2 linked regions of the Homo sapiens genome follow. The protein of the gene in region 1 purifies or fractionates together with the protein of each later gene. This does not show direct contact. Each region holds a gene or a part of one and is shown in the gene's direction. Other genes may lie near its edges.

The links.
Region 2: the proteins of SERPINB4 (region 1) and METTL13 purify together in Homo sapiens (affinity purification with mass spectrometry; 3 studies listed by BioGRID and IntAct, with this or other methods). This does not show direct contact.

What each region holds. Positions count from the first base shown.
Region 1 is NC_000018.10:63,636,739-63,641,527, reverse strand, and holds the end of SERPINB4 (serpin B4), read left to right. Parts: intron 1-536; coding exon 537-654; intron 655-1,751; coding exon 1,752-1,894; intron 1,895-2,187; coding exon 2,188-2,343; intron 2,344-3,404; coding exon 3,405-3,809; 3' UTR 3,810-4,269; downstream 4,270-4,789. UniProt on the Homo sapiens protein: May act as a protease inhibitor to modulate the host immune response against tumor cells.
Region 2 is NC_000001.11:171,776,697-171,784,947, forward strand, and holds the start of METTL13 (eEF1A lysine and N-terminal methyltransferase), read left to right. Parts: upstream 1-4,963; 5' UTR 4,964-5,271; coding exon 5,272-5,424; intron 5,425-7,043; coding exon 7,044-7,803; intron 7,804-8,251. UniProt on the Homo sapiens protein: Dual methyltransferase that catalyzes methylation of elongation factor 1-alpha (EEF1A1 and EEF1A2) at two different positions, and is therefore involved in the regulation of mRNA translation.

The sequences.
Region 1 (4,789 bases):
TGTAATAGAGTGAGTAAGAGTAATAAGTAATAAGATACCATCGATAAACTGGCACTGACTCAGTCACATACGATACATCTTGGTGGGAAATGTATGACTAATGGGATATTATTGGAATGGGCAGGCTTGGGTGAGTTCCTGAGAATAGTTGAGGAAGTACCAGGAAATATTGAATGCACAGGATGAAAGACAAAAACAAAGATCAGAAACATCATGGTTAAAATTACTGGAGAGAAGTCTGAGAAGCAATGAATCTCCTTCAGGGAAGCCTGCTCTGCAGTTTGCAAACCACAGCCTCTTCTGCTTCTGCCTTTTGCCAAGATGATATTGACCTTCAGTGACCTCTTTCTTGTGCCAGCCCACATTCCCCTTTTGCATTGCCTACATGACACCTGTATAAAAATATCCATGGACAGGAGATACTGCATCTATTCAGGGTCTGGATTCAGCTTACTGTTGTTACAAATAAGTAAGTTTGGTAATATATAGTTACATAAATTACTCCTAATTCCTACTTCTTCCTTCATATCTCAAAGGAATATTTAGATGCCATCAAGAAATTTTACCAGACCAGTGTGGAATCTACTGATTTTGCAAATGCTCCAGAAGAAAGTCGAAAGAAGATTAACTCCTGGGTGGAAAGTCAAACGAATGGTAGGAGAGCCACCCATTATAGAAACACCTTTGAGAAACCTATGCCAGTGAGCCTTGTGCTTGACACTGCATGGGGGAACAGGTGTGGGGATTGAGATGGGTTTGCAGGGAGGGCTGAAGAGGGCACTCCAGATGAAGGATTTGTCCAAATGAATATGAAGAGAGCCTAGGGGAGCCAAGGAGGAAATCACAGGAAGCCAATTAGATGGAAACACATCTGGAGAATTATTTGCTTATGGCCCTGCATGACAATAGCTTTGTGGATCCCCTGTCTCCGCTCAGGCCTATTTTGAGATCATATCCTTTACTTTAAATCAGACTCAAATTTTTATGATGAATATTTAATAGAAAACATTAGAAAGCGTCTCTCGTCTCCTTTACTAATTGGGAAACAAGCAGCTCTCTGGTAAATCACCCTTTTGTCTCTGAGCTGGAGCTGCCTGGATCACATCTGTAGCCAATGTGTTCTGCAGGGATTATCACAGCTCTCTTCCCCATCAAGGGCAAAGAGCTTGACAAAGTCTCCATTCTACAGACATCTTTCTTACCTCCCACCTCTCATTACAGGCCAAACTTACAGCAACTCAACATGAGAGTGAATAGGAAGATACCCCCGGAAGTAGTGTCTGACAGCACAGGACATGCGTTTCATATTACAGAGCTCAAGTCACTCATCCTAAAATGCAATCAGGGCCTCCTTCCTCTGAATGGGGACCCCGTAGTTAAAAAAAAATAAAAGTAGGAAGAGGAGGGAGGGAGAAAGGAAAGACACATGTTGGAAGAGTAGACAAAATCAGTTTATCAGTATTCCAAATCAGATGATTGGAGACATTCATACACAGAGAACGTGAACTCCTTCTCTATCACAAGAAGTGATGTCTCCATCAAGGGTAACTTTATACGACTGGAGCCTTGAAGAAAGCTGCATCTGGTGAACCACTGGTCAGTGAGTCTAACAATTCAAAGATCAAAGTCAGTGAGTCTCAAGCAGGGATTTGGGTCAATAATTAACGATCAGTCACGAACATTTGCAAAGCATCTTCCAGACAAGCCATTTGTAGCTTGTGTAAAAGACTCTTTTATTCTTTCCCTTGCAGAAAAAATTAAAAACCTATTTCCTGATGGGACTATTGGCAATGATACGACACTGGTTCTTGTGAACGCAATCTATTTCAAAGGGCAGTGGGAGAATAAATTTAAAAAAGAAAACACTAAAGAGGAAAAATTTTGGCCAAACAAGGTATTGTCTATATTTTATTTATATAGTGTAATATGTTAATACATGGAATGTTAAACATTTCTGATGGAATGTAACATGATAAGTAAAAAATAAAAATTGTTCATGTCTGTTATTTTGTTGTTTTACTCTTATAACTTTATTTAGTTAGGAATACCTGAAAAACTATTGTTTCTAACTCATGGAATTCCTGGGTTATTTCTTAGAAGAAGAAGGATGTGTTGCTATCTCAATAATATTATCTTTTTTGTCTTGTGTTTCACGTGTTATTTGTTGGACACATTGATTTATTGCAGAATACATACAAATCTGTACAGATGATGAGGCAATACAATTCCTTTAATTTTGCCTTGCTGGAGGATGTACAGGCCAAGGTCCTGGAAATACCATACAAAGGCAAAGATCTAAGCATGATTGTGCTGCTGCCAAATGAAATCGATGGTCTGCAGAAGGTAAGAACTTGCATCTACAACTCTTCCTTCTACTGCCGGACATTTTTCCAAAGATACCAAGTTTAAACAAGGTAAAAGCTTATGACCGAGTTGCCTCAAAATGATGAAAAATTCTAAATGAGGAATGATGACTCACCTTCATATTACAAATATTTGAGCATAGGGCCTGACACAAACTGAAAGCTTAGTTTTTGTTTGTTTGTTTGTTTTTATTATTATTATTATAATACTTTAAGCTTTAGGGTACATGTGCACAATGTGCAGGTTAGTTACATATGTATACATGTGCCATGCTGGTGTGCTGCACCCATTAACTCGTCATTTAGCGTTAGGTATATCTCCTAATGCTATCCCTCCCCCCTCCCCCCACCCCACAACAGTCCTCAGAGTGTGATGTTACCTTCCTGTGTCCAAGTGTTCTCATTGTTCAATTCCCATCTATGATTTAATTCCATCTATGGCTTAGTTAATGATTAATTTATTAGAGTTACATGCATTGGATATCAATTTGATGATATTATTATGCAGCAATTTAAACTTGACTGGGAGAAATATATACCAATGTGAGGAAAGTTTACAAATAGGCCGAGTAGAAAAGGGAATACAAATTTAGGAATTTAGGGAATTACAATTTAATAATTGCAATGTGTACTAAATAATGTATACAGAAAAATATGATGAGCCTATTAAAAATTGACACATGTAGTAGGCTGTTGGCACAAGAAATAGTGATACATACAGTTCATTGTGTACAAAATAATGTAATCATATTTTACATGTGTATCATACAGTTGTATACATACATATGTACACATATACATATACGTAAAAACATGATTCTGTTTTTACATACATGTATATACATATACACATATAACCCAATGTATTTATATATTCAGGACTCATATTTTACCTATTAGAATAATAATGTCTATTAAAGTGAACCTTCTGTATTTCACATTTATTGCCAAAATAACGAATCTCCACATAGTCAATTCATTGTTAAGGTGTATTAGAGATCGACAGTTAGTCATATCAGTTTCTTTTTTCCATTTGTATAGCTTGAAGAGAAACTCACTGCTGAGAAATTGATGGAATGGACAAGTTTGCAGAATATGAGAGAGACATGTGTCGATTTACACTTACCTCGGTTCAAAATGGAAGAGAGCTATGACCTCAAGGACACGTTGAGAACCATGGGAATGGTGAATATCTTCAATGGGGATGCAGACCTCTCAGGCATGACCTGGAGCCACGGTCTCTCAGTATCTAAAGTCCTACACAAGGCCTTTGTGGAGGTCACTGAGGAGGGAGTGGAAGCTGCAGCTGCCACCGCTGTAGTAGTAGTCGAATTATCATCTCCTTCAACTAATGAAGAGTTCTGTTGTAATCACCCTTTCCTATTCTTCATAAGGCAAAATAAGACCAACAGCATCCTCTTCTATGGCAGATTCTCATCCCCATAGATGCAATTAGTCTGTCACTCCATTTAGAAAATGTTCACCTAGAGGTGTTCTGGTAAACTGATTGCTGGCAACAACAGATTCTCTTGGCTCATATTTCTTTTCTATCTCATCTTGATGATGATAGTCATCATCAAGAATTTAATGATTAAAATAGCATGCCTTTCTCTCTTTCTCTTAATAAGCCCACATATAAATGTACTTTTCCTTCCAGAAAAATTTCCCTTGAGGAAAAATGTCCAAGATAAGATGAATCATTTAATACCGTGTCTTCTAAATTTGAAATATAATTCTGTTTCTGACCTGTTTTAAATGAACCAAACCAAATCATACTTTCTCTTCAAATTTAGCAACCTAGAAACACACATTTCTTTGAATTTAGGTGATACCTAAATCCTTCTTATGTTTCTAAATTTTGTGATTCTATAAAACACATCATCAATAAAATAATGACATAAAATCATTTTTGCTTTACCTGTTTTCTCTCTGGAAAGGGCAAGTGTCCAGTTACACATAGGAAAGATAATTTAGAGATATATTAATCATATATAAAGGAAAATTAAAAACAGAGTAGTTCATGATGAGCCTGGAGTAGAAGGCATATCCCAGAACAGGAGGAGCCTTGTAAACCACATAGGAACTTCCTATTTTATGCTAAAGGGATAAGAAACTCATTACAGGCTTTGATGGTTGTTTGTCAAAGAGGGGCATAAAATTATCATATCCACATCTAGAAAATACATCTCTGGCTACGCTGATATCAATGGATGCGAGGAAAGAACAGTGTGGTTACCATATATAAATTAGGAAATCATTAGAGTATTGGGAGTGGAAATGGAGAGAAAGAAAGAGCCTGGGGGAATTATTTAGGAAATAATAGTTACAGAAAGACATCTAAGTTGCTGACCTATCTGACTGGATGGATGGAAGAATATCTTGTTTCTGAGAGAAAAAAAGACTTTGGGTTTAAATTTGTACTTGAT
Region 2 (8,251 bases), on another chromosome or scaffold:
CCCTTGAAGTCAGCAGTTTGAGACCAGCCTGGGCAACATAGGGAGAGCCTGTCTCTACAAAAATATATATTTTTTTAAATTAGCCAGGCATGGAGGCTCGTACCTGTAGTCCCAGCTACTTGGGAGACTGAGGTGGAAGGATCACTTGAGCCCATGAAGTCGAGGCTGCAGTAAGCTGTGACTGCACCACTGCACTCCAGCCTGGGTGACACAGTGAGACCCTGTCTTATATAAACAAACAAACAAACAAATAAATAAATAAATAAGTAGCTATTATCATCATCCCAATCTTAGGAATCCAATATCAGCTTGATAGTCACTTTTCAGGTCAACAATATCGTCAAGAAAAGTGTTGACACTCAGCTAATAAAATGGCAGAATGTTACCCTAGGATGTTATTGTGTCTGCCTTCTATTATCCCAAGATACAGGAGAACATTCATTTTTAAACTTCTCAAATGTGGAAAACAAACCCATTTGCTAAGATGATTTCCAATTTGAAATAGTTTCCAGCATTATATGAGCCACTCCCTGTACACCAAAGAGACATTCCCTTTACTTAATTTTATATCCCACTCGTGAAACATTTTCATGTGTTGGACCTACCAACTCCAACTGGATACCACTGACAGGAAGTGAGAAGGGTATGAGCCCTGGGGTAGGCATGCAGGGTGGGGAGACTGGCTTTTAGCTCTGGCTCTGGTTTTTACTGGAGTGATAACCTCTAAATTCTTTTCTAGCAACAGTTCTACAAATAATACCCCTTTCTCCTTCCCCGTTTCTTTCTACAGACTATTTCTTCAGTCATCCAGAGGCCGATGTAGGAGTCATTTATGAGTCCCTCAGTCTTTTATTCCCCCTATTCAATCAGTCATCAAGTGCCTCAGTCTTTCCTGAGAACATCTCTCAGATCAGGTCTTTCTGTCATGACTCTGCTTCTCTGTTGACTTCCTGTGGCCTGACAGGCTGAAGCTAAATATGTGGAATAGAAGACTCCTCAAAACCTGCCCTTTACCTCAGCCTCTAGTTGTATCTTCTGCTGCTTTCTCCCCACTGTGACCTTCTGCCCCAACCACACATACTCTCTCTCTCTCTTTCTCTCTTCTGTTTATGTTCCGTATTAGTTTCCTATCACTACTGTAACAAATTACCAAAAACTAGTACTATATGCAATACAAATTTATTATCTTACAGTTGGATCAGTCAGAAGTCTGACAAGTCTCAATAAATTAAAATCAAGGTGTCAATAGGGCCGTATTTCTTCTGGAGGCTCTACAGGAGAATTCATTTCTTTTCCTTTTCCAGGTTCTAGAGGTCACCGCCTTTCCTTGGTTCATGGCTGCTTTCCTTCATCTTCAAAGCCAGAAACATTGGGCCAAGCCCTTCTGTCTCTCCCTCTTCTACTTTAAAAGACCCTTGTGGCCCAGCCTGGCCAACATGGTGAGACTACTAAAAATACAAAAATCAGCTGGGTGTGTGCACGCCTGTAATCCGTAGCTACTCAAGAGGCTGAGGCAGGAGAATTGCTTGAACCTGGGAGGCGGAGGTTGCAGTGAGCCAAGATCGTGCCACTGCACTCCAGACTGGGCAACAGAGTAAGACTCCGTCTCAAAAAAAAAAAAAAAAAAAAAGAAAGAAAATGAAAAAGGACCCTGTGATTACATTGAGCTCAGTTAGATAATCTTGCTATGTCAGCTGATTAGCATCCTTAATTGCATCTACAACCTTAATTCTTCTTTGCCTTGTAACCTGTTACCTTCACAGTTTCGGTTCAGGGGATTAGGAGGTAGACATCTTTAGGGGAGCATTATTTTGCCTCTCTCATCCTCTGCCTCCCAAATTGTCAGAGATGCTTTTTATTCCCTCTTTATTATTTTACAATTAATCGTAGTAACAATCAATTGAATATTACCACAATTATGAGAATGTTTCAATTAAGTAAGTTTGACTGTAAATTATATATCCAGAGGTCTGGATTTATATTTTTAGGAAAAAACTCCACAATACTGAATGGCTTTATCTAAATTTAGCTTGCATTTTAAATCATATTTTTAACCACTCTGGGGATCCTAATAAAACACAAAGCATTTTAACATCTTATTGGTTTAAATTAACTAAGTATACTAATGATAACACATACCTATCAATTATATTTCATAGTTAAATCTTGAGAGAAATAAGCTTCAAATAAGTATTTTGAAAGGTTAATGCTAGGGTCTAATGTTACAATATATCTAAAATATTTCTGTGTTAATCTTACAATTTTAGAAAATCTCTAGTATGTTTAAGCTTAAAATGTTCTGGTTGTTATCACTTTTTTAGGCTCACAGAAGGGAGGCAGGCACAGATGGAAAAACGTAAGTTACTTACCCTTTTGGTCTGAAAAACACTGCAAACAGTAATCATACTTTTAGAGCATCAAATACGGGGCTGGAGCCTGGGCTGTGATAGAAATAACTTCGTCTTTTCTAATAACATGACCTTAACAGAACAGACAATGGAGACAGAGGGAAAAGCAGCAGCCAGAAATTCTTGTAAAGGTTCCAGAAGGTGAACCATGCTTTTTGGTTTTTCACCTATGTCATGCTGATATTAAGCAGTCAGATTATATAGTATTTTTGTCCCTTCCTCAGGGAAGCCTTCTCTGGTTACCCCTTAGATCAGTAGAGGTCACAAAGATATACTATCATGGAATGGTATGGTTCTCCTTCACAGCACTTATAACTCCCATTACAGACTATTTTTGTAATTGTTTAATGTGCCCTCCACGTGATTACCATGCTTACCACTGCATCCTTAGCTTCTACCACAGTGATTGGCCCCTATTAGACAATTAAAATATTTGTTGAACTGAATTGAATAAAGCTTTGGGGGGCACAGAGCAGCTGCTATGGTTTTTGTTTGTTTTTGTTGTTGTCGTTTTTGAGAGGGAGTCTCCTTCTGTTGGCCAGGATGGAGTGCGGTGGCGCAATCTCTTGGCTCACTGCAACCTCCGCCTCCCGGGTTCAAGCGATTCTCCTGCCTCAGCCTCCTGAGTAGCTGGGACCACAGGCACACACAACCACGCTCGGCTAATTTTTGTATTTTTATTAGAGACATGGTTTCACCATGTTGGCCAGGCTGATCTCAAACTCCTGATCTCAAGTGATCCGCCCGCCTCGGCCTACCAAAGTGGTAGGATTACAGGCGTGAGCCACCGCGCCTGGCTGCTATGCTGTTTTGCTTCTTTGGTATCGTGTAGCACATTCAGTACAAGTGATGTCCTCCGCTCTCAATAAGTGCTTCCTAAAGAACTCACATTTCACCCATTCAGAACCTTGCATGGTGTAGTAGCTGAAGTTACTACTTCAAGGACTCCTTCTCTTTATCTTGGGTAGAGAGGAACAATGTGAACTCAGCAAAGGGATCATGAAAACAGATTTTCTCTTATGTTACTTGTAGAAAGCTTTTAGATTTATCATTGAAAATTGCGAATTTTGAACCATATCCATTTTGACTTAATTGTATTTTAAAACAGTGGTTCTCAAAAAAGTGTGGTTCCGGGACCAACATCATCAGCATCGTGGGAACTTGTTAGAAACACAAATCCTTGGGCCTCACCACTGAACTAATGACTTAGAACAGGGGTTGGACTGGGGAATTCTGTGTTTTAACAAGTCCTCCAGGTGATTCTGACGCATGCCAGTTTGAGAATCACTTTTTTAAACCAATGTTTAAGTCCAATCTAACCTACTTAACTATTAACAGTCTACCTGGCTATCTACCTGTGGTAGTGTAGTATGTAACAGCCCACAGCACACATGCTCAATTCCAAGCCTATCTGCTCTCCGCAATCAGTATATTCCTCCTGCAATTTATCATGGTATGAAAGGCCCAGTGATACACATATTTGGTCATTTTCAAATAGTGCCTGCCAGCATAGTGGCTCACACCAGTCATCCCAGCACTTTGGTAGGGTGAGGCGAGATGATCATTTGAGCTCAGGAGTTTGAGAACAGCCCGGACAACATGGCGAAACCCCATTTCTACAAAAAAAAAAAAAAAATTAGCCAGCGGTAGTGGCGTGCTACTTGGGAGGCTGAGGTGGGAGGATCCCCTGACCCCTGGAAAGTGGAGACTGCAGTGAGCCATGACTGCACCACTGCACTCCAGTCTGGGCGACAGAGACAGACCCTGTCTGAAAAAAAAGTGCCCTTCACAGAAGCTTCCTCAGGGTATTAGCATGAGCATGTGAAAGTACAGTATGTTTATCAAACACATAAAATAAGCAGTTATAAATAACGTCAGAATAACACAAGGAGGCCAATTATCAAAATGAAAGGCTAGTTTTGCATGCTGTGCTTTGCGGAGAGAAGGAAGAGGGAGTTTTCATGTTATTACACTTTTGATAGCAGAATCCTATATTTTGGTGCAGAGGTGGCAAAATAAGGCGGGGGGTGCTGGTGCGCAGAAGCTGACAAGGTTAGAATGTGCAGCGTTTTTACGACGGACTGGCTTTACTCATTTCCTGCCTCACTTCTCTCCTATCTGTATAGGTTTTTCTTTTCGTCCTCCTCTACCAGTACGCTCCCGCCTGCCGCGCTCCGCCCTTGTGCGGCGCACGATCGGAGTCAGTGATTAAGCCGGCTCCAAGACAAAGCGGAGGCCGAGCCCAGGAAGCAAGCGCGCTCTCCGCCCCGCCTGGAGGGAGGGCCCAACCACAGCACAGCCGCGCTCACTCCTCACCCGGACGTGACCTAGTTCTCACAGAGGCCCGGCCTCTTCCGCCACAACTCCGGCCCGCGGTCCCGCCCCGTTCCGTGAATGGTCGGCCGGCCTCAGGTCAAAAAAGCGTTTAGGTGTCTGCGACGGAGCCTCCGGAGAAAGGCAAGCACGTCGCAGCCAATGAGGTGATAGAAACGCAAAGCAGCGACCAATGACTAGCTGAGTTGGGCTGGGCCGGCCGACGAATCACGAGGCTTCGCACCCGGATATGGTTATGGGCTCGGAAATCTAGTTCGGGAAAAGTGTGAGGGGCTCTTCACGTGGGGAAGGAACAGCAGGCGCGGAGGAGGGGGCAAGCGTGTGTGAGATTCAGTGGTCCATGCGTGCGTTTGTCGTGTAAGGGTCATTCCTGGGGTTTGGAGTGGGGGAACAAATCAATGTGGCTGTTTTTCCGTGGAAAGAATTCCCACTGCAGTGTCCCGGAGCCTGCGTGTGGTGGGCAAGCTCCTCAAATGGTATCTCACAGGGAATAGGGGAGTCTTGAAAACGCAGCTTCGGCAGTAGGAACATGAACCTCTTACCTAAAAGTTCCAGGGAGTTTGGCTCCGTTGACTATTGGGAGAAGTTCTTCCAGCAGCGAGGAAAGAAAGCTTTCGAGTGGTATGGAACCTACCTGGAACTGTGCGGGGTGCTACATAAATATATCAAGCCCAGGGAAAAGGTGAGGAGCGCGGGTTGGTAGCCCTTCGTACGTGCTCCGGAAGGTGGGAACTGGTAACAGGAATCTTGCACTTGGTGGACAGTGACAGGCGGGAGGACCCTAGTTGGACGCATATTTCAGCATTTCCTGCATTGTTCCTGCTAAAAGACAAACTAGAATATTCTTTCAGGCCGGGCGCAGTGGCTCACACCTGTAATCCGAACACTTTGGGAGACCGAGGTGGGAGGATCGCTTGAGCCCTGGAGTTAAAGACCAGCCTGGGGAACATGAGACCTCGTCTCTACAAAAAATGAAAAAATTAGCCGGGCGTGGTGGCGCGCATCTGTATTTCCAGCTACTCGGGAGGCTTAGGCGGGAGGATCGCTTGAGCCCAGGAGGTCGAGGCTGCAGTGAGCCATGATCACGCCACTGCACTCCAGCCTGGGTGACAGAGTGAGACCCTGTCTAAAAAAAAAAACATTTCTTTAAAGGTTTTCAGATAATAGACCTCCCACCCCAGCTCATTCTTGGATTAATAACCCTACTTGAAGAGTGACTTCCCATCTTGAAAGTATGTTCTTCTGTCACTGTGCATTCCTGTGCAACCTGCAGCAGGTGTGACTTTGTGTATGAATTTGTTTTTCAAATAGTCGTTGAGTGCGCCCCAAGTTTCAGGCACTGCTCAGTCCTTAAACTATAAGAGCATTAAGACGTAAACCCTGCACATGTTCCAGAAGTGAAACGTGATAAGTACAACAATGGGTTTGGTATAGGTGAGATTGTACTGGAGGTAGGGAAGGAGGAAGGTAGAAAACTTAACATTTGTGGGGAAGCTTTATGTGCCAAGCCTTATGTTGGGTGCTGTGTATGTGCATGTGCAATCTTTGAATTCTCATCATAAATTCAGGTGAGTGGCCATGCATACATTTTACAGATGAGGAAACTGAGGCCCCGAGAGCCACTTTTTTTTTTTTTTTTGCCCAAGATCATGTCCAGGTGGTCATGTGGGGATTTAAACTCAGGCCTGTCTGGCTCCAGAGCATATGCACATCTCTTTGTACCATGCTTTTCCAAAGATGGCAATATCAGAATTTCTAAGTTTGAATGGGAGATTGCTCCCTGGAGAGGGAGACAACAATCTGAATTTTAAGTTCGGCTTCAGAAGATAGCCAAATATCATGAGATGGAATCCGTGATGGAAGTAAGATTTGAATCCTCACAAAGTGTACTTTATTGTCTAAAGGAGCCAAAGGCATGAGTAGAGTGAGGAAATAGGGTTATTCCTGGCCTAGGATTTCAACTGTAACTCTATATTTGGATTCTCTGACTTCCTATTAATTCCTGAGTAATAAGTGCATGATTTAGAGAAAAGAACAGTTATGATTAATTTGTTTCTGCAACACAAAGCCCATTCTCATATAACCTGTATTGTAGCTGAATGTGGTTTTCACTAGCAAGTATATGTGGTGTTTCAAGATAGAGTCTAGCATCAACTCTACAATGTCGCTCTTTCTCTGGCAGTAGCGTCTCCACCTTCTGAAAATGTGACTCAGCCAAGGTGAGACTTGATTCCTTGAAGTACCTGAAGTACAGTCCTTTGCTTTGATTACCTCCCTCTTGTCTGTGAATTTTTTCTCCAGGTGCTGGTGATTGGGTGTGGCAACTCAGAACTGAGTGAGCAACTGTATGATGTGGGCTATCGGGATATAGTGAACATCGACATCAGTGAGGTTGTCATCAAGCAAATGAAGGAATGTAATGCCACCCGACGGCCCCAGATGAGCTTCTTGAAGATGGACATGACGCAGATGGAGTTTCCTGATGCCTCGTTCCAGGTGGTGTTGGACAAGGGCACCCTGGATGCTGTCCTGACAGATGAGGAAGAGAAGACCTTACAACAGGTGGACAGGATGCTGGCTGAGGTTGGCCGTGTCCTGCAGGTGGGCGGTCGCTATCTCTGCATCTCCCTGGCTCAGGCTCACATCCTGAAGAAAGCAGTGGGCCACTTCTCCCGGGAGGGGTGGATGGTGAGGGTGCACCAAGTGGCCAACAGCCAGGACCAGGTGTTGGAAGCAGAGCCTCAGTTCTCCTTGCCTGTCTTTGCCTTCATCATGACCAAGTTCAGGCCAGTCCCTGGCTCTGCCCTTCAGATCTTTGAGCTGTGTGCTCAGGAGCAGCGCAAGCCTGTGCGGCTGGAGAGTGCCGAGCGGCTGGCCGAGGCGGTGCAGGAGCGACAGCAGTATGCCTGGCTGTGCAGCCAGCTGCGCCGCAAGGCCAGGCTGGGGAGTGTGTCTCTGGACTTGTGCGATGGGGACACGGGGGAGCCACGCTACACCCTCCACGTGGTGGACAGCCCCACTGTGAAACCATCGCGGGACAATCATTTTGCGATTTTCATCAGTGAGTTGGGATTGCTCCCTCTCTTCCCTGGAGGGGCTGGCTTACAGGGGCTGGGGCTTGGGCTGGGGCTGGGGCTGAGGCTGGGCTGGGGCTTTGGTGGGATTCTGGACTGTTTTTTGTCTTGCAGGGGTTTGTACTTCCAGAGGATTAGACTACCCAAGGCATGATGAAAGGAGAGTAATAGCTCTCTAGCAACCTACTTGGAGTTGAGACCTATTCCTTTTCATCTGCCATTGCAAAGGCTTGATGAAGTGTGAGAATGGGGTTGGTAGGGAAGAGAGAGAATAGAGATAAATTTAGGAGGTCACATATGATATAGAGATGCTAGTTACTTTGTAGCATGGAGTAATGGAAGTAATGCTGGACTAGCAAGTCTAAGACATAGGTTCTAGTCCCAGCTGTAGCCTGTGAGCTGCAGGACCTGGGGAAGTTGCTGTGCTTCTCTGCA